Regions from separate parts of the Homo sapiens genome. Here region 1 is linked to region 2. Evidence: fine-mapped expression QTL. A gene starts in region 2. The other region holds a variant in brackets. All regions are shown on one strand. Distances are between the middles of the regions.

Region 1 (9,504 bases), 270 kb after region 2:
TCCAAATAATTCTGGTGAATAACTGGGTTTTGGAACCACAATTTAAGTATTGCAGTGTTTACTCTTTATTGCTTTTAAAGGAAATATATTATTTTACTCTTCTTAAAATAAGCATAACTATATAACACACAGTGGCCAACTGACTCACAACTGAGCCATCTTATCTTATAATTAGGAAGGAATTTAATAAAAACTTGTGTTCATACTGCCTTTTTATCACTTCATTTTCTAAAATCTTCTTTTAGGAAACTTGCCTCAAAGCATGATTCATCTTTTACCCAGCTTCAAAAGAAAACATTTTAGTCTTTGTATTTCACTTCCAGGATAAGGTTTGATTGCTTTAGAGAGTCAGAAAACAATAATAGATTCATCCCCTCCCACTCCCAGGAATATTTAAGAATAACAGGCCCCAATTTCTTTTTAATCTCTTTTGTGCTATTTTTTTGTTCTATTTTTAAAGGAAATTTTCTTTCTTCTTCTTTTTCCCTTTCCTCACCACCTCCAACTGTTGTTAGCAACTCTCTAATTTTTGTGCAATCTCATTTTTATAATTTGGAATTAGATCAAACTTATTAAAAAGGAGCAGATGCTTCCCAGAAGATGCTGTTGTGCCTTTGCTTTGTTCTGTATTGACATCGTGGATTTCTATATTTCTCTGATTATTTACCATTGTTTATGTATTAGTTTGGTTAAAAATCAATTAATGTTGACTCTTTTAACCCTCTGAACAACATTGTGGGGCTAGTATTATTATCTGCTAATTTGAACCACATGAAATTGCTATGTTTGAAGATAAACAAAAGCAATTGAATATTGGCAAATTTAATACGATTCAGCCTAGTATACTTGATGGCTCCATGCTATAGATCTCAAACAAGTGACTTTGCTCAGGGTTACCTAAGCATATAAATAGAATCAGTTTCAGTGTGTTCTTCCCCCTAAAACATAGTTGTTTCTCTTTTTAAAAAGTATTAACCGGCTGGGCGCGGTGGCTCACGCCTGTAATCACAGCACTTTGGGAGGCCGAGGCAGGTGAATCATGAGGTCAGGAGTTTGAGACCAACCTGGCCAGCATGGTGAAACCCCGTCTCTACCAAAAATACAAAAAATTAGCTGGGTGTAGTGTCGGGCACCTGTAATCCCAGATACTTGGGAGGCTGAGGCAGGAGAATTGCTTGAACCCAGGAGGTGGAAGTTGCAGGGAGCAGAGATGATGCCACAGCACTCCAGCCCTGTCTACAGAGTGAGACTCTGTCTCAAAAAAAAAAAAAAAGTATTAACCAACATTTACAACCTGTTTTTGTTTCTCAATTGGAAATTTTTAGGTCTTAAATTGCATCATTTACTGTATAACACACATGTACAGCTCTCCTTCACAGAGTGTACATGCTGCATTTGTATTGTTCTACCATGAAGCAAGCTATTCTATGTTTCCCTGTATACATACATGGTTATTTGTGAATATACAATTTTAGGTAAGAAATTACTATTAGTATTTATAGAACTTTACAGCATAAAGAATTTTTCGATTTGATTACTTTGTGTATTATATTGAGAAAACCTAATGTATAAAGGTGTTGATATTATTTTATTTGTTCAATGCCTATTATGTCTAGTAGGTATTTTAACTAATCAGACCAAAAAGGAAGGAGTAGTAGTACAGCATCTAAGTCCTGGGAGCTTGTTCTATCTAATAAGATCCCAAATTATAGAAAACGTTATTTTAGTCTTGGAAGAAAGTCTATACCAGAGTAAAGTTCTTGAACTCATAACTGTTGAAATAAATTTATTGTTTTAATAGCTCAATTCTTCTTACTTTCCTGTATTGGTGTTCCTTCTCATGTGTTATAACTTCACTATGAGTTGGGTGCCCTGTTGCTTTGCTTGACTGGGTTCTCCATGTAACTTGCTTTAACCAACGGAATGAGGTAGAAGTGACGGTATGCCTGCTGCAAGCCCAGGACTCATGAACCTTGTGTATTTCTGCTTGTACTCTAGAAAAGTGGTTCTCAACTAGGGGCAGCTTTTTCCCTAGGGGAATTTGGCGATATCTGGGAGCATTTTTGGCCACAACTTGGGGGATTCTACTGGCACCCAGTGGGTACTGGCCCAAGATCCTGTGGAACATCCTATGATAGAATAACTCTTTACAACAAAAAATATTCAACCTAAAACATCAATAGAGTTGAGTTTGAAAAACTTTGCTCTTTACAGACTCTGTCATCACCACAAGAAGGATATGCCTGGGCTACCCTTCAACTTTTAGAGGGAGGATGAGAGGCACATGGAGTAACACTAACCTGCAGAAACATGAGTAAGACCAGTCAAGATCAACCAACACCAAGCCTTGTGACTCATGAGATTTAATAATAAATAATCTTCCGTTTAATAACTGAGTCTTAAGGTGGATTGTTTTGCAGCAATACCTAACTGATAGAACCTTGTAACAGAGGAAAGCTGAATATTGGGTGGTAGAGTCACAGTCAACATACCATGTTAACAAATTACTCAGCAAAAGATAAAAATTAATCTATCACTTCCTACACACCACCAATGGAAGACTTTTTTTAAAACTTTTTCTTTGAAAATAAATGCAGTTTTAAGGTTTGCGTAGTGAATCTATTTCACAAATCAAAGGATAAATAATTTTGGTATATTAGCATAGATAAGAACATCTCTTCTAATTAATTAAAAAGTGCCGTAGTGCCTGGCACCATCATGAACACTGTAATTGTAAAGAAAAATAAAACATGGCCCCTGCTCACTATAAGCTTCCCATACAGCTGGAATATTCAAATTCCTTGGCTTCATTCAAGTATTTTTAACTAGTGGAGATTTTATCATTGTTTTAGGAAGAGTATCTACCTTAAAACAAATATATTTTTGGAGGCAGAATTATAGCTGGAAATATTAATTGTTGTACTTTCTGTGTTTTTGTTCCTCCTTTCTACTCTCTAGTGGTAGTGGGGTAGGGGAGGGCAGTCTTTGCTTTCTCAAGCCAATATTGAAATAGAAAAAAAGACTCAAAAAATACATATCCAAGCACAAGTCAGAAAGACGCACGTAAGTATTTATGGAGGCATATTTTTGGTAATCAAAGACTAAAAAGACAAGGGTAGTGGGAAGGTGGGACTATCCTAGAAAAGAGAAACAGGGCTTGATTTCTCAAAGTGGAAGAAAGGGCTGAATTTTCCTCTTACAAGCACTGGGATTGACGATGAAGGGGCTTGTAATGATGATTACTGGTTCTTCTCCAATATATATTTTACCTCCTTTCCAGTGACCCACTGCCAATGGACATCCAAAGTTCCTCGTTCTAGATACTGGTGTTTCACAGAATAAAAATTAAAGGACTTGGACTCCTTGTGTGGAGATGGGGATGAAAAAAATCTCATTTGTATTTTTCTTATGACCAGGTACAGCTGGGGACACAATAACACTGCATTTTTTTTTAATAGTAGCGATGCAAATGTAATCATGTTTTTCTTGCTACGTTTAGCCTACTTTCTATTTTTACCTGTGACACATTTGTACGCATATTTCATGCTACTTAAATATTTAAAACTTTCTCATTACCTTTTCATTTTTAAATTATTCTTTGTCAATTGCATATATAACTAAGTTTGTGATTTTTCCTACCAATGTCTAAAAATATGAAATCCTAGAAATGTGTTTTTCTTGTATCCATAGTTATCCAACATATTTTCATAGCAGCAAGGCAGATTCTTGTGGTAACTTGGTTCCTATACCTCCCATAACACAAGGACTGAACATGGCTTTTAGCAGATGGAGTATGTGTTATTTCCACTTGTGGCAACATGAAACCTGGTGTGGTGAATAGTAGGGGTCTGCCCATGATGCCCACCTCTTGATTTTCATGTCTGATTTAAATGCTCTGTGGAAAAAGGATGGATTTACTCCCTCCCCCAAATTTGGTTCAGATATCAAGACATGATCACACACAAACACACATACACACACACACGCACGCACACACAGACAGCATGGAAGGTCTTATTTCTTGTGTAAGGCTAGCTTCCCATCCTGGTCCAAACATGGCCTAAGAGAACAGGGAAAGGAGACTTGAATGGGGGTTGTTATGGTTGTCAGAGAGTGTGGCTGGGGTTAAGGTTCCCACACACAGCAGGGTTTGTGTGGAGTGAACCTCCACTGGCTCCAAAGGAAGAAGTACCCAGGCTTTCTTTTCAGGTGACACAGATGCAAGCAGAAGGGAAAGAGGAGAGGTGAGGCATGTCTCCAATCAAATATCAAAAATGAATTGAGACTGTTGATTACCCTGCTTCTATGTAATGCCCTCCCCTTGAGTGTGGGTGAGAACTGTGACCTGTAAATGTTGTGATTACATTATATTATGTGGTAAAGGTGATGGGATGTTACTCCCATGATTATAATACAATGTGTATACATATATGACTCCGAGAAGACTCTCTCTTCTCT[C/T]TTGCTGCCCTGAAAGCAGCAAGCCTTTATGTTGTGAGCTGCCTATGGAGAAGGACACATGGCCAGAAACTGTGGGCAGCCTGCAGGAGTTGAGGGCTTCAGTCCTCCAATTTCAAAGAACAGAATTCTTCCAACAAACACAAGCACATAATCTTGGTGAGGACCCCGAGCCTCAGATAATAAGACTCTAGCCCAGCTGAAACCTTGATTGCAGTCTGGGAGACCCTGAAGTAGAGAACCCACTCAAGCTCCTGATCCACAGGAGCTGTGGTATAATTAATGTGTGTTGTTTTAAGTTGTTAAGTGTGCTGTAAAATGTTATGCAGCAATAGATAATATACCAAAGGATGACAATTTTTTTCTAGTCCTCTCCCTTTATCTTTCGCTATGAGGAAAATATATCTGATTTGTAAAAAGGGTATTTCATAGGAATATCTTTTCGTTTTGTTTGGGTAGATGGCAAATAGAGTCAGAAGTGGAAGTCCTTAAACATAGCAGTGAGTTTCCGGATGAAATTCAAGGAAAAGTATGTAAGAATGGGAGAAATTGGAAATCTATGTAAATAAACATAGCATCAGAAGTGACTTCAAGTAGCATTCTACAATGGCAGAAGCACAAGATAGAAACCATGAAAGGACAATCAATAAGATGTCTTAGGTAATTAGATGTAGGCATAAAGTAGATGAAGGAATCAAATATAATTCAGAGATTTTTTGATTCATGATGACGTGGAAAGAAACTAAATTATTGATAGAAACTGGCAAATCAGAGAGAGAGTTTAATGTGAGGAGATTACTTTTACATTAAATATGTTGAATTTGAATTGACCAGAAAGAGAGTTGTGGTCCAAGACTGACATACATTGACACAACAGACATGCATTGACCCCTTCTAGGAATCTAGTTTGGTAAGAAGCCCGGGGCGTAAAACTGATGAGTAAGCGATGTAATCAGCTTTTGAGATGCTTGCACTCTCGTTCAGGCAGACGCATACCAGGAGTGCATTCATACAGAATACAGGTCCTAAGATAGAGGTAAAATCAAAGTACTGGGAAGCAAAAAGGTTGGACAACTCTTTATCATCCTTCAAGGCTCAGATAAGGTAGAGCTATTATCTGAGTGGCGCTTTCCCTGACCACTGTCTTCTCTGTCCCTTGTTTGTCTCTGCAAAGCTCTGTTATAGCACCGGCCCTCTTCTAATGCAATTATTTGTCAGCATGGCTGGTGTTTTTCTTACTAGATTGTGAGTTCTTTGAGAGCCAATCAGCCTCTTTTTTTCTCATCTCTGTATTCCTGGTGCCCAGAATAGCACATGTCACATGTTACACACTCAAGAAATGTGTATTGTGTGCATTATGGCTGGGGGGGGGGGGGTAATTCACTTGATTAAAGTATGATTTACATAAGGGAGAGAGGTTCTGTTTAGAGAAAAAGCTGGAGCCTGAGGACTACATTTTCAGGTACATCTTCAACAATCTGTTCATAAAACACATCAGGGCCTCCCATTGCATACAATGTTGCAAGCCCATTGAGTTTTTGTCTTTTTATAAAAAGGGACTTTAGATGTGTCGAGAGTGAAATGGGCACTTTTTATCAAAGGATGTTTATTACCAGCTTTGGAGGTGGGCACTTATAACCCTCCACACTTTAGATGTCTTCATAACTCAGACAGATATTTGGCCTACTGCCTTGCAACCTGGAGGGGCTGCCCCTGCTACATCAAGTAGAAAAGGTCTCAATGCCTTGGACTGATATGCAGTATGTGAAGCATGGTGGAAGTGAAGCTAATGCCAAATAAAATTTGAGAAAAACATCTCACATGTCTCAGAGTAGAGACTATAGCTTACCAGGGAAAATAATTACTTTTATAGATTGGAAGGCCCCTTAAGACTTCATCTTTGTTCTTTCTTTACAGTTGGAAACTTACTTCTGAAGTTTTATATTGCCTTATTTTTCCTAAATCCCAAAAGACATATTTTGTGAATTTTAAAAAAAGTTTCATTAAGCTATCTTGCCACCAAAAATGTGCTTCAGAATTTGGATTTATTATTGCAGATTTTTTTAAAAATGAGGTGACATGTGTAAGATAGCAATATCAGTGCATACTAATTCCTGTCTATTTCTAAATTCTGCTTAAAAGGACCAGAAAGTCATCTAAAACAATAACACGTTTTTCTGCAACTAATAAGGTGTAGGAAAATTAGTACTAGGGTGGAGAAAGACATCACCAGCAACACTGCTTCATCTCTACAAAGAACATTTCTGTCACTGCATCACATTTTAGTGCATTGACACATGACTGGGGTTTGTAATAATTACCCCAAGTAATTACTCTGAACAGCAATGCCTTCCCATTTTCTTTCCAGAGACTGGCTCATGCATACATGCGTGACAAATCCTGACCACTGAAACAAGAAGGAAAGATTGCTAGAGTGTTTCTGGGCATCTTGCTTGTCTTTAGTAAGGAAACAGAGGAAAGATAAACTACTTTCTGATTTTGGAGAACATTCTACTGTCTTAAAGTAATGCCTGGCACTATTGAAATAAGCCAGAGCATGAAGCTGCCACCCTTAAAGAAGAGCACAGCCAAAAACATGATGGAGAAGGGCAACTGGTGTCCTTATATCCAAACTTGGCATTGCCCTACGTCTGGAATTCTAGTTGTATGAGATAAATGTATTTCCTTATTTAAGCCAATTTGAAATAGTATTTTGTTACTTATGTTGAAGGCTTCCTAAGTGATACAGAATGTGGGAAAATGGAGAGTGCTCAAGGGAATACCGAACATACCCTAAAAGGTATATTTGCTGAGTGGAGGGAGTAGAGGGGAGAGAAGAGAGAATTCCCTACTCTAAAAGATCCACCTATTCTAGGCTAGGAAGTGGGTGACCATGGGTGAAGCATTTGCCAACATTCTTTTAAACTGTTGCCTATTGTACATTGGGACTTAGATCATTTTCCATACAGATTCTAGTGTTAGGAAAGCCACAGGGAAAGTTTGAAATATTGAAATGATGTGTTGTTGCCCAATGCTACTGGCACATTCCTAAAAGAAAAGATTTAGCTGAATATGGTCAAATCAAATGCACATAGAGAGAAACATGACTTATGTGACTTTAAGAAAAGTTGTATCTTTGATCTACAACCAAGTCCACTGATGGGTAGAATAGCCAAATTCTCTATTCCTAGCTAAAGTTAACCTAAATGTCAACAGAGAGACAGCAGTTTTTCAGGTTACCATAGTGGGATTTCATTCAAGTCCCTCCTATTAGTCATTCTTTTTTGGAAAAGAGGCCAATCCTAAGAAAAAGATTAGATTATTTGTGGTGCCTCTCCACCAAAGACAATTATTTCACATTCCTTCAGGGCGGAGGCTACTCATCTGGGGCCAACAGAGAAGGGAAGGACACAGAAGTGCATAGCCAGAAACAGGCATTTACATATTCAAAGATCACAGGTAAATCAAGTTCTTTAATTGTGGACTGGAAGCAAAAATACCTGAAACCTAATAAATTTTTATGAGAACTGCATTTTCCGGTGGAAGTATCCTTGCCATAAAAATTTCAGCTACTTAAAACGGTTTGTTGAAGCTCTTCTCTACAATGTCTGTCTTTACACCACTTGCCTCAGGTATGATCATAGGGGAAAATGTACAAGGATTTATATGCACAGAACAGAACAATGCTGCCAGGTTGGCTCATTAAAAATCATATTATTGGCTGGGTGTGGTGGCTCATGCCTGTAATCCTAGCACTTTGGGAGGCTGAGGCGGGTGGATCACAAGGTCAAGAGATCGAGACCACCCTGGCCAACATGGTGAAACCCCGTCTCTACTAAAAATACAAAAGAATTAGCTGGGTGTGGTGGTGCGCACCTATAGTCCCAGCTACTCGGGAGGCTGAAGCAGGAGGATCGTTTGAAACTGGGAGGTGGAGGTTGCAGTGAACTGAGATCACGCCACATCACTCCAGCCTAGTGATAGGGCGATACTTTGTCTCAAAAAACAAACAACACCACACACACACAACAAACAAACAAACAAAAAAACCATATTATTTTCCTGGGGAATCAAATCTTGTCTCTCCAACAGAATATATATAGTGTGGCTAATGACTCTCAAGTTTAATTTCTCATTCTTCCTTTATTACAATTGGGAATTTTATTTAATATTATTATCATGTCCCTTCTGCCCTTTTTGTACCAGTTATTTTAGGGGTAGATCCCTCATCTTTTAGCGTTAGGTTGCCAGGAGCAATATCTGAACCTGATGGAGAGGAATATATATAAGCCAGGAAATTCACACTTGGATCTGGATACAGAAGAGATTTTGGTCTTTCTTCAGGAAAGATATGAATGTGTTTATGTAGATGTTAGAATTTCTAAAAATATTTGTAGATATTGGTTAGCTAAAGAGGTGAACTGTAATGGTAATCATGGACTACTTCTCAATATCCTTCTACCCTCAAATGATTAGCACAAAACAATCATGGTACTCTCATTTCTTTTATCAATTCTAGGCAATGAAACTTCAATGGAATTTTGCTATTGTGCTTCTGGAAAATGGTTGTCTCCTTCTTCAAAAGACATACAATATGATATAGCTTCACTGCTCACTCTGGAAGTTACAGCTCTGGTTATAATGTTAGGAATTTCTGCAGCTACCTTGCTATGTGTTGAGGATCACTCTGGCACAAAGACAAGGGCAGTCTAACAAGAATGACAGAAACATAAAGCTGGAGCCCTGCTGTAGAGTATCTCCCTGACTCTATGCTCTGTTAGACTCCATGTTGTAAAATAATACATTTCATCATTGCTTAGTTCATTTTGAGTTGGGTGTTCTCTTACTTGGAGTCCCAAAATACTAGCCTATAAGTAGTTTATCTATAGGCTGTCTTGATTTCCTTACTACAATGGGACCTGGTGTTTCATTTGATCTACATATATCCTTGGGGTGTACATCAGGGATGGGGTTGCTGGATTTAGCAAAGAAAAATACAGGATACTTAGTTAATCTAGATTTCAGATAAACATATATTTCATAAGACAT
Region 2 (9,504 bases):
ATGCACATCAAAGTTTGAGGAACACAGTAATATGACACTATTAAATATTTTATAGCTGGATTAGAATTACATAAAATGTAATCAAAAAATAATTCTATCAATGCATATTTAAAAAATCCACTTTTGATGATACCCAAAATTAGTTTATACTTATATATTTCTTCTTACTTCGTTAAAATTAACATCGATTTTCTAATAAACAGAAAACCACTACAAGGAGATGCTCAATAATTGTTGAAATCTGATAAAACTAGATTGAAATCACATTGGATTAGATTTAAAAAGGTATCTTTAAATGGAAAAGAAAGACAGACTTAGAAGATGGGAAAAATAACAGCAGTCAGTTTTTGGTACACCTCCTCAGTATCACATACCTGCCTGTTTTACTCGCTAAGCTGCATGTTCTCTGCAGGTGGAGACTCTGATATTCAGATGTGCTCTGAACAGGGGGCACATTTCAATCGATGAAGAAGTAAACAATGATTTTCTTTAATTTATTCCTTTATTTTTAAGCATTAAAATATTCGGCTGCTAAATAACTTTGCTATTACTACTGACATTTTTCTACTATTTATCCACTACAAAATCTCAGAAGTAACATAAATGGTATTATAATAACAATGTAATAAAACTGAGAAGTAAAACCATCAGGGAATAATTAACCAGGGCGTGTATCTACTTTCAGATTATGACCACTCATTTCATCCTGTCTCCTTGAAAATTGTACAAGCTCTGTTCATCCACTAGGGTAAAGCATGGCATCAGCTTATTGAATAAACACTTGAATGTTCCTGGTAAAAGAAAAGATTTTATTAAACAGTTAATATTTGGAACTAGGTTTACATCAATCATCTGCTTTTTTAGAGAACATGATTGCCCTCTAGTGTGGTGAAAAGTTAATGCAGACACCGAGGTTTTCCAATGGACAGAACCAGTCTAGGTTCTGAAAACATCTGGGTCACTGGCTAGTTCAGTATTTTCTTTTTTAATGAAAAAATTCTAGCATTTTTTCATATAAGGTCACAGATCTTGTGACAACAGGATAATATGTGTTTTTCTTCCCACGACCAAAAAAGAAACTGGTGTGAGCTGGGGTTCGCTATCAGCAGCTCCCAGTGGCCACGCCCAGGCCTAGGTTTGTGCTCTGAGCTTCCTCCTGCTCGGAGGCCAGCTTTTTTCAGCCTCCTGTGAGCAATGAGCTACCAAGGTAGCCTGAGCATGTGATCAGTCACACTCAGTTGAAGTAAAAAATAATGGTGATTGATAAATCCGGAATTTTCCTAAAGATGGCCTGAATTTATCAATGACAAAGTCTTCCATTCAATATGTATCGATTCATCCTCCACTTCATTGTTAGTTGTACAGATTTAACTTTAAAATTCTGTTTGATAGCTACTGCTAGGTATTCACAGAACTAAGTAACTATTTGATCTTAAATTATAGGGAAGAAAACTATTTTATTATATGAATCAGCCTTATGGCACTCTGAAAGGACATTTCCTGAATCTGAGTAAATTGTAGCCTCTTGTAGCATTTTTTAATCACTGAGAATGAGCTATTTGATGGAAGTCATATTGTGCCAAATGATTAAATGCTTATTCCACCATCTATCCATTAGTAATTTGAAAAATAAAAACCCAAAGTAATTAAAACTGCTTTCAATGCAACAAATAAAAGTTTGCTAAAAATATTAATGAGGTAATAGCTGTAACAATAAAAACACTCATTTCTCTTTTAGAATAGAATAATTTACTACAAATCTGTAAGTCACATTATTGTAAAAAAAAACCATTGTGAATTTTGACTAAAGTTGTAGATTTTAATAGCACAAATGTCCAATCTTAATTATCATTTTAAAATATACTTTCTCTCAGAGAATTTTAACGTGCATAGACAAACACCACAAGGTCTATTAATTTATCCTATCATTCTAGCTACCTGCGACGTGTTACACTGGGACAGAGAGTGTTTATTGCAGGCTCAGCTTACTCACCTGGTATAAACTAAATACATGAGATTAATTGATAAACTACTGCCATTTCTTTCAGTTTTATCCTGAAATTCTGACCAAATCCTCAGCTTTTCATTTCTAGTTACTTATATATCCATTCAGAAGGTGCCCACTTCATTAGAAAAGATAATGGGGAATATTATATGCACCTCTTACAATCATGCTGAATACATAATTGTTTAATGAATCAGGAAAAAAGCACTCGCCCTGATAATTAATTATCTTTGAAATTGGAATTAATTTCAAAATCTATTATTTTAATACTGCAGAAGTAGTGTTTTTTTCATGATTTGCAAATGCAGTTAAATTATGGCCAGAAAGGATGCTTGCGTTTGTCATATTTGGGGTGGGATTTTTATTTGGATGGCGGCTACCATTTCACGATCCATGTATCTGTGTAGGATTGAGGCTGTATCAAGAATCAGCAGTTGGAAGAACAGTTTCAGGGGAAAAAACTTAAAATTTTGTGCATAAACTATATTTATATATTTATAGATATAACCTTATGTTGAAGATCATCTCAATTATATATGTGTATTCTCACCCATTGCAGCCACAAACAATTCTTTGCAGAGAATTTTCCAGCAATCGTTGGCACACAAACCCTGCTCTTAGCAAGCACTTGCACATGTATCTTAGCCACATGAACATACATAATCCTGGCAGGAAGCAAAAATATATTTGCTTTATAACTTAAAATGAACAACTGGAGACAAATTTACCTTTTTGTGGGGGAAAGGGATGAGGGCAATTAGGAGGAAGCAAAGCGAACGCAACAAGGGTTAATCCTTAACCAAGAGCAATCCACGTCCCTTTTGAACAAATGAGAACAAACAAGGCTACTGAATCATTAAATAATAACAACGATTTGAAATGATAATAATACTGATGATGACGATGAGTTTGCAGCCACTAGCCTGCAGCGGAAACCTTTCTGAGGGGTGCAGAAAGCGAGGCGAGATCGCCCCCACCACCCATTCTCAGAACCTTTCTGGACGTGCGAGTGAACTGCGAATTGTGGAAAGCGGGGGTAGCTCAGGACACTGCGCAGAAACCGGTCTCCCCGGCTGCACCGCGGGGGCGAGCGCCCAACTCCGGGGAGGGGAGCGCAGGGCGCGGCGCGGGGCTCTGCAGGGCTGGCTGCGCTCCACACACCCAGTCGCCACGTGCGCCCCCACCCGGCCAGCGGTAGGCGGCTCTGGGCCTCAGCTGGGAGGGGTGGGGCCGAGCCGCGCCCCGCTGGAGGAGCGAGGGTCTCCCTTAGAGAAGCCCCTCGCGGGGTCTCCATTCTGGAAAATCATAGAGAACAGAGGGTGGGCGGGGGGCTTGGGCTGGGGGAAAAAAAGCCCCGAGCTCCGCGGACCGTGGGTGGGCGAGAAGAGACAGCCCTCCCTGAATCCCTGGGAAGGGGGTCACCTCTGCGGTCTCGCGCCCGGGCTGGGTGGGGCCGCGCCTTTGTGTGGCCGGGCGGGGCTCGAGCCAGCTTTTCTGCAGAGCCACCCGCTTGGCTGGGAGGGGCTCGGTGCTGGGGCTGAGAGCCACGCCGGGGGTCTGCGCACATCAAGGGGTGCTCGGGCCGTTGTGGACTGCGGGGCTGAAAAAAGAGGTTCCAGGACTGCATACAGCTCAACTGCCCCTCCCATATTCCTCTTCCCCGCCAGTCTCGGAGCCTGAGGTCTCCCCGGCTCCGCGGGGAGGGTAGGGCAGGGCGGAGCCGCGCAGATGGAGTCCTTTCGGCAGCTTTCCCTGTCTCCGCATCCTGCAACCAAGTCCCGGGGGACACGTGCTTCCAGCTGCCACAGGACCCCAGGCCCCACCCTGCCTTTTCACCCCGGGGCCACTGAGCGCCAGAACCGTGGGCACTCAAGGCACAAGACCAATTGCGGATGAAGGCCCTGAATCCAGAATCTTTTCCGGTCATCCTGTGTCTCCACTGTCTTGTCTCTCTGAGCTTATGAAATTGCCGATATTTGGCACTGTCTGACCCACAAAACGGAAATTTCGCGTGGCTTAACTTAAGACTTTGACCTCTTTTGCTTTATATACGATTTCATGTCATCTCTATTATTATACATACACATGTCTAGGTTCTAGAAGCTTTTCCCGCAAACGATCAAAGGTCTTCAAAGAACCCTTTATCTGTGTCTATGTCTAAACACTCTATGTAATTTGCTTCCGAAAAGAAAAATGTTAACCCACTTTTCCCATCTCTCTTAAAAGCAGAACAATGAGGCCAGCGTGGGGAGGGCGGGGTCAGTGGTCAGGTCTCTCTTGGAAGCCGCGGCGGGGAGTCGGGAGCGGGGAGCGCGGGGCGTGGCGCCGCTGTCCCCGCAGGGTTGGGCTCCTGGGTGTCACGCTGCGCTCCCCACCCGACCCCCTTTCGAATGAAGATGCAGCACCGGGCGGGGGGGCGGGGCTGCGCGGTTCCGCACTGGGTGGGGCTGTCCGCATTGTGCGCCCAGCGCTGCAGGTGCCTCCCCCCGGGACCGCTGGTCCGCACACAAAGAAACCCCACCCCAGCGCCTTCGAAGCCGCTGTCCCTCCACCCCTCCCTGCCGCGCGCTTCCCCGCCCCTGCAGCTGCCCACCCGCGCCCTCCACGCCCTCCGCGACTTCCTCTCTCCTTCCCCTCCCTTGCCCTAAAACAAAGGAGCGGAGGTCCTACCCCCACCCTGTCCCCCGCCGTCTTACCTCCCTGCACCGCACCCCAGGACTAGCGGTTTCTTCGACGAGACAATACCGTAAAATGTGCCCAGTTCTCTCCATCCCCTCCCCCCGTCTCCACCCATCTTTCAAACAGCGGGATGGGACCGCTTTGACTTTGCAATTTTCTTTTTCCTTTCTCCCACCTTCCCTTTACCCCTTTCCTATTTTCTTCTTAAACTAGAGAAGAAATAAAAAAAAAAAAGGTCGTTATAAAGCACTTTCCAAAATGTCCCTTAAGCCCATTTAAGGCAAACAGTTAAGGTAGCTTCCTCCCCTCACGATTGAGTCCTAATTTTAAATATGGAAACAGAATAAATTCTCTACCCATAGGAGGGCAACTTACCCGCTTCTACCTTTTAAAAGAAATTCTTCGCTTTAGATTTCCATAGACCTCTTCTCTGCCCTCCCACCTCCCCCAGAACTGCCCTGTCCTTCCTGGTCCTGTGTTACCATTAACATCTTTTTCTTTATAAAATATCTCTGAATGCTTCTAGAGCTCAAGAGAGGAGGTGAGAGGTGGGCTCCAGGTAGAGCCGACGGAGAACGAGGCGCAGTGCCTTACCCATTGCTGTTTTAGCCATTGTAGGGATGTGCAGACGCTGAGCAGTGGCGAAGGCAAAGGGTCCGGCTACAGCAGCGGAGAGAGCGAGAGAGAAGACTGAATAAGGCACTGAGTCTGCAGAGTGGGACCGTGCTAGAGAAAGAGCAAGAGGCAGGAGCCCATGAATAATTATCACTCAGAAGCTCAAGCAGATTGGCTCCCAAGGTCCCCTGACATGACTCCCGCAGAGTCAGAATCTCCAAGCATTAAATATTGATCGGCCAATGGTGCTGGAGTACAAAGTACCAGAATGCAGTTTGAAATGGAAATCAGTCCTTCCCTGTCGGCTCCCCCCATTTTGGGGGCCTGATAGTACAGTCCAAGTAGAGTGGAGCTTTAAGCCCTGAAGCTTCCTAGGAGCTAAGAACTGGGCTGTGCCTACCTGGGAGCCAGGAGGCTTGACTTTGCTCATACATGTGCCATTGCACAATTCAATGGAAAAGGATTCAGAAGCTTGAGAAGTCCTCACTATATGCAGGCTGTTGGAAAATTCTGTTTAAATACTGTGTTTTCACTTTTTCATATTTTCTTTCACCTTTGGCTCTGTCCTTGGTTCTAGTCTTTCAGGGCTACCCTATGTCTGGCTATGGTGGCAGCTCAGAGCAGACTTGCATTATTGTCCTTTATCTTTTAGCACAGCTGGACTTAGGCGTCTCTAAACTCTTGAAGGTCTCTCAGGAGAGGGAAGCATGGTGTTTTCTTCCCTTGGCACAGAGGAAGGGGCTACCTGGTTGCTTGGGAATAGGGATGGTAATAATGGTCCACCTGGGGACATGGGGGAAGAGGAAGAAAGTTTAACCTCTGGTGCCTGTGTCCTGTCCATTTGTTAACACGGCAGAAAACAGGTTGGCTGGCTGGTTTGGGCATTAAGGAAACCACAGGTGAATGCCATGTTGCCCTGAAGGTGTAGGATTAAGTGGGTCAAAATTTTAGTAACCTTTCCAGGGCTCTAAGGAGAATGCTTTACATGGAAAACTTAGAAGAGATGAAAGGTGTGGTCTGGGTCATTATTTTTCTGAGATCCAGAGAGACTACGTTTATGTAGGCCCAGGAAGGCTGTGTTCAAGTTTCGGATTGAGCAATGTCGTATGTGAGGATCTTTGAGACTAGTTGCAAAAAATGACTTTCATTACAAACAAGGCATTTATTAGTTCCTCCTTCTCACTTAATGGATGCCAGTCATTCATTTGTTCTCTTTCACTTGACTTAAATATGTATTGAGCATTTACCATGTGCACAGCTCTGAAAATGGTGAGAAAAAGTTTAGGAGTTGCTGCATGAAGTTTTTAATTACTGCTAATTTAACTCTTCTGTAACTTTATTGAGCCAGTCTAATTCCATGCAGAAACTGGTTTTAATATTAGAAAAATAGGCAAAGAATTGCTAATTCCGACGTTTGAAAGCCAAAAGAAGAGCACATTGTTGCAATCATGAACAGGTATGAAACCCTGGCAAGTTTTTAATTTCAGAAAAATGAATGTATTTTTTTCTTCTTATTAAAATAGGTTTTTAGCAGCTTTCTGTCCAATCACATTTCAACTTTTTTTTCTATCCTCAGGAACAATACACAGTTTCAAATACATAAAACCAATTGAAAATAGCAGGGCACTCTCCTTGGTGCTGAAATGAATTTCTTCACCTCCTATTAACTTGTAAGACATTTTAACCTCATGGACATTTTGCTGACTGATAGGATGCTACTGGAACTGGAACAGTTTTGACCTGCTGAATCATGGGGAAAATAAAAGATGAAGTGGAGATCAATAAAATTATTTCTTGAACAGGAAGATTAGAAATTATATTTCCTATCTTTGAACAGGTCTGTGACTATGACACAGCAAGAGAGCAATATGGAAGTTGGCAGGGTCTGGAAATAAATAACCATTTTCTCTCTATATATAGGCATTTCCCACTTTAAATGTAACAGTTAATCACCTCTCACTGGAGTAGTTATCACTCATGAGGTGAAGGATCTTCAGCATGTCTGTGTGACTAATATTTTCAAAGTATTTCTCTTCTCCCCACCACACCCTTTCCCCTCAGGCTGTGTGTCATCTCTACACATTCTTCAGCTTCCTTGGAGAACAAGGGCCCTAAGTCATGGCATTAGTTTCTTTAACAACTGCAGTTGGCTGCTGAATGAAATCGATTGCACTTTTGATGACTATGAGGAAAACAAAACACTCATTCTACTGCCCTAAGGGTCACATATGTGACTCTTTTCTATTTCCGATTTTCTAGGTGTTAGCCACCTAACTTCAGTTATGAATGATTTTTAAATAATGTCAAACAGGGAAGAGAGTAGGTCAATATGATTTACCATAGAATAAAAAGATAGTAGGCAAAATTGTCAATCAGCTAAGAAAACACAAATAAATTCAAAGGGCTGTGCCATTATCAAATTGTTTTTTGTTTTCTTTTATCATTACAATATGGTATCATGCATATTCACATGGGAAAGTAAGGGTGAAATATGAACAGAAAAATTATTTCATATTCAATATGTTATTCACTTATTCATTTGTTCAGCTAATTTATTCAACAAATATTTATTTGATGATGTTTCAGGCTTTTGTGATGCCAGCCAAGCTTCTCCTTAATGTCTGAAAAATAGAAAGTGAAGGAAAATATAACACCCATCTCTTTAAGAAAATATTAATTTGGGGGAGTGAATATGATCTTGTGTATTGTGGATCACACTTTGTTGCAAAAATTTGAAAAAATAACCCAAACTGGCACTAATAATAAAAGTGCATTTGCTGTTTCGTCTAACCATATAGATAGAGTTGGCCCTAGAGGTCTGGAGGTGAGATCAGCTTTTCCTGAAGGAAATGGTTTTGATGGGAATGGGTGGACACTCAAAGAATAGGTACTACATTTGCACAGTATAAACTAAGGACAACCAGTATCTGTCGTGTGGGGATTTGGGTAGACTGAAGGGTTATCATGTATGAACTGTCTAAGCCATCATGGATATATAGTAATTTTAAGTACTATGACTATATTTAGTGTTTCCAATACATTTAAACCTTTGAAAGGTAGAGAATGAATAGTGTATATCTTTATACCCTTCCTAGTGGTTGGTTTCATGATTCACGTGGTAGACAGTTAAAAACAATTTGTGAAATAATAAATAATACAGTGTTGAAAATGATTCAAAATGGATGAATCCAGTGAGACCATATTGACACTTCTAACCTCCTTTGCTTAGCTTGTGTTGGGAGCAGGTATTAGGCTGTTTACCAGTGTTTATTTATTTATATCCTGCCCTATTCCCAAAGAACCTAAATGAGTAGAGCTCACAATAGTAGATGGCCCTTGTTAATTTTTGTTATCTTTAACAGCCAGCAGTAAGCTGGAGCTGTGGAAATCACAGACTTGCTAACAGAAATTTTAATTATTGTGGGTTATAGCCTAGTGTGTATTATCTCTGTGAGGAGGCCTGAGGTGTTGATTTCTTTCCAAACCAGAGAGAAGCAGTTGCTTTGGAGGATTAGCTGATGCCATCTAACACAGTCATATGATTTTCTGCTATTCATAATCAAGTGCCTGGGAAAGAATCCTAAAGTAATTATTAAAAGTTAGTGAGATAAGAGAAACATTGTTAAGGTCAAATTAATTGTTTTGATCTGACCTCAGGTGATTACAAAAGAAATGTGAGAGATAAAATCCATTGAATTTTTTTAGATGTTTAGAAATTTAGGATATAAAGTAGTTATAGCTGAAGATATTTAGAGATGCATCTAAAATAATCACACATGAAAAAATAGTTGACTTTTTAACATTTTGATTATTTTGCCATGTTTAAATTCTTATAGATTAATGAAAAATAAAAAGGATCATGTGTCCTTTAATAGAACTGTCTAATATGGTTTATTCAAAAGGAAAGTCATTCCAAGGAGGGAGAGTTGGTGTTCTTTATTAGCAGTGAGCTCTGTATTGCTCAGGAATTTGCCAGTGTGTTAGAGTTATTTCTGAAGTGTGGAACAAACACACTTCATTGTTTTCTTCTTAAATTAGTTATTTAAAAATAAACAATGATTAGTTAATTATTATTATTTTTTCTCTACCTAGGGTTTTCTTTATGTCCAAATGGGACTTGTATGTATTAATAATTAGTATAATTCACCCTGAAGCAAAATGACTTATTGAAATTAGTAAATCCTATTGATAGTTTTATAATTGAA

Which allele goes with the higher level. Positions count from the first base shown, and alleles are read on the strand shown. Sizes are in standard deviations (SD) of each study's normalised expression.
With allele T in place of C in region 1, the expression in fibroblasts of the gene that starts at base 5,376 in region 2 is higher (moderate effect, 0.71 SD a copy in GENCORD).

What was found. PIP is the estimated chance that this variant, and not a neighbour inherited with it, causes the effect. A credible set is the group of variants that fine-mapping cannot tell apart.
Region 1: its variant is the best candidate, but not a certain one, in a credible set for the expression of STMN2 in fibroblasts (GENCORD, PIP 0.64).

The regions. Positions count from the first base shown.
Region 1 is chr8:79,339,902-79,349,405 of GRCh38, reverse strand. No RefSeq gene overlaps it. Among named protein-coding and RNA genes, the nearest start is that of MIR12123, 12 kb to the right of the region's middle. The variant C/T (reference allele first, on the strand shown) is at 4,459.
Region 2 is chr8:79,606,989-79,616,492 of GRCh38, reverse strand. STMN2 (stathmin 2) reads right to left here and starts at 5,376. Exons shown (of 5, transcript NM_007029.4): 1 at 5,279-5,376. The coding sequence starts at 5,297. RefSeq lists a silencer at 3,067-3,126.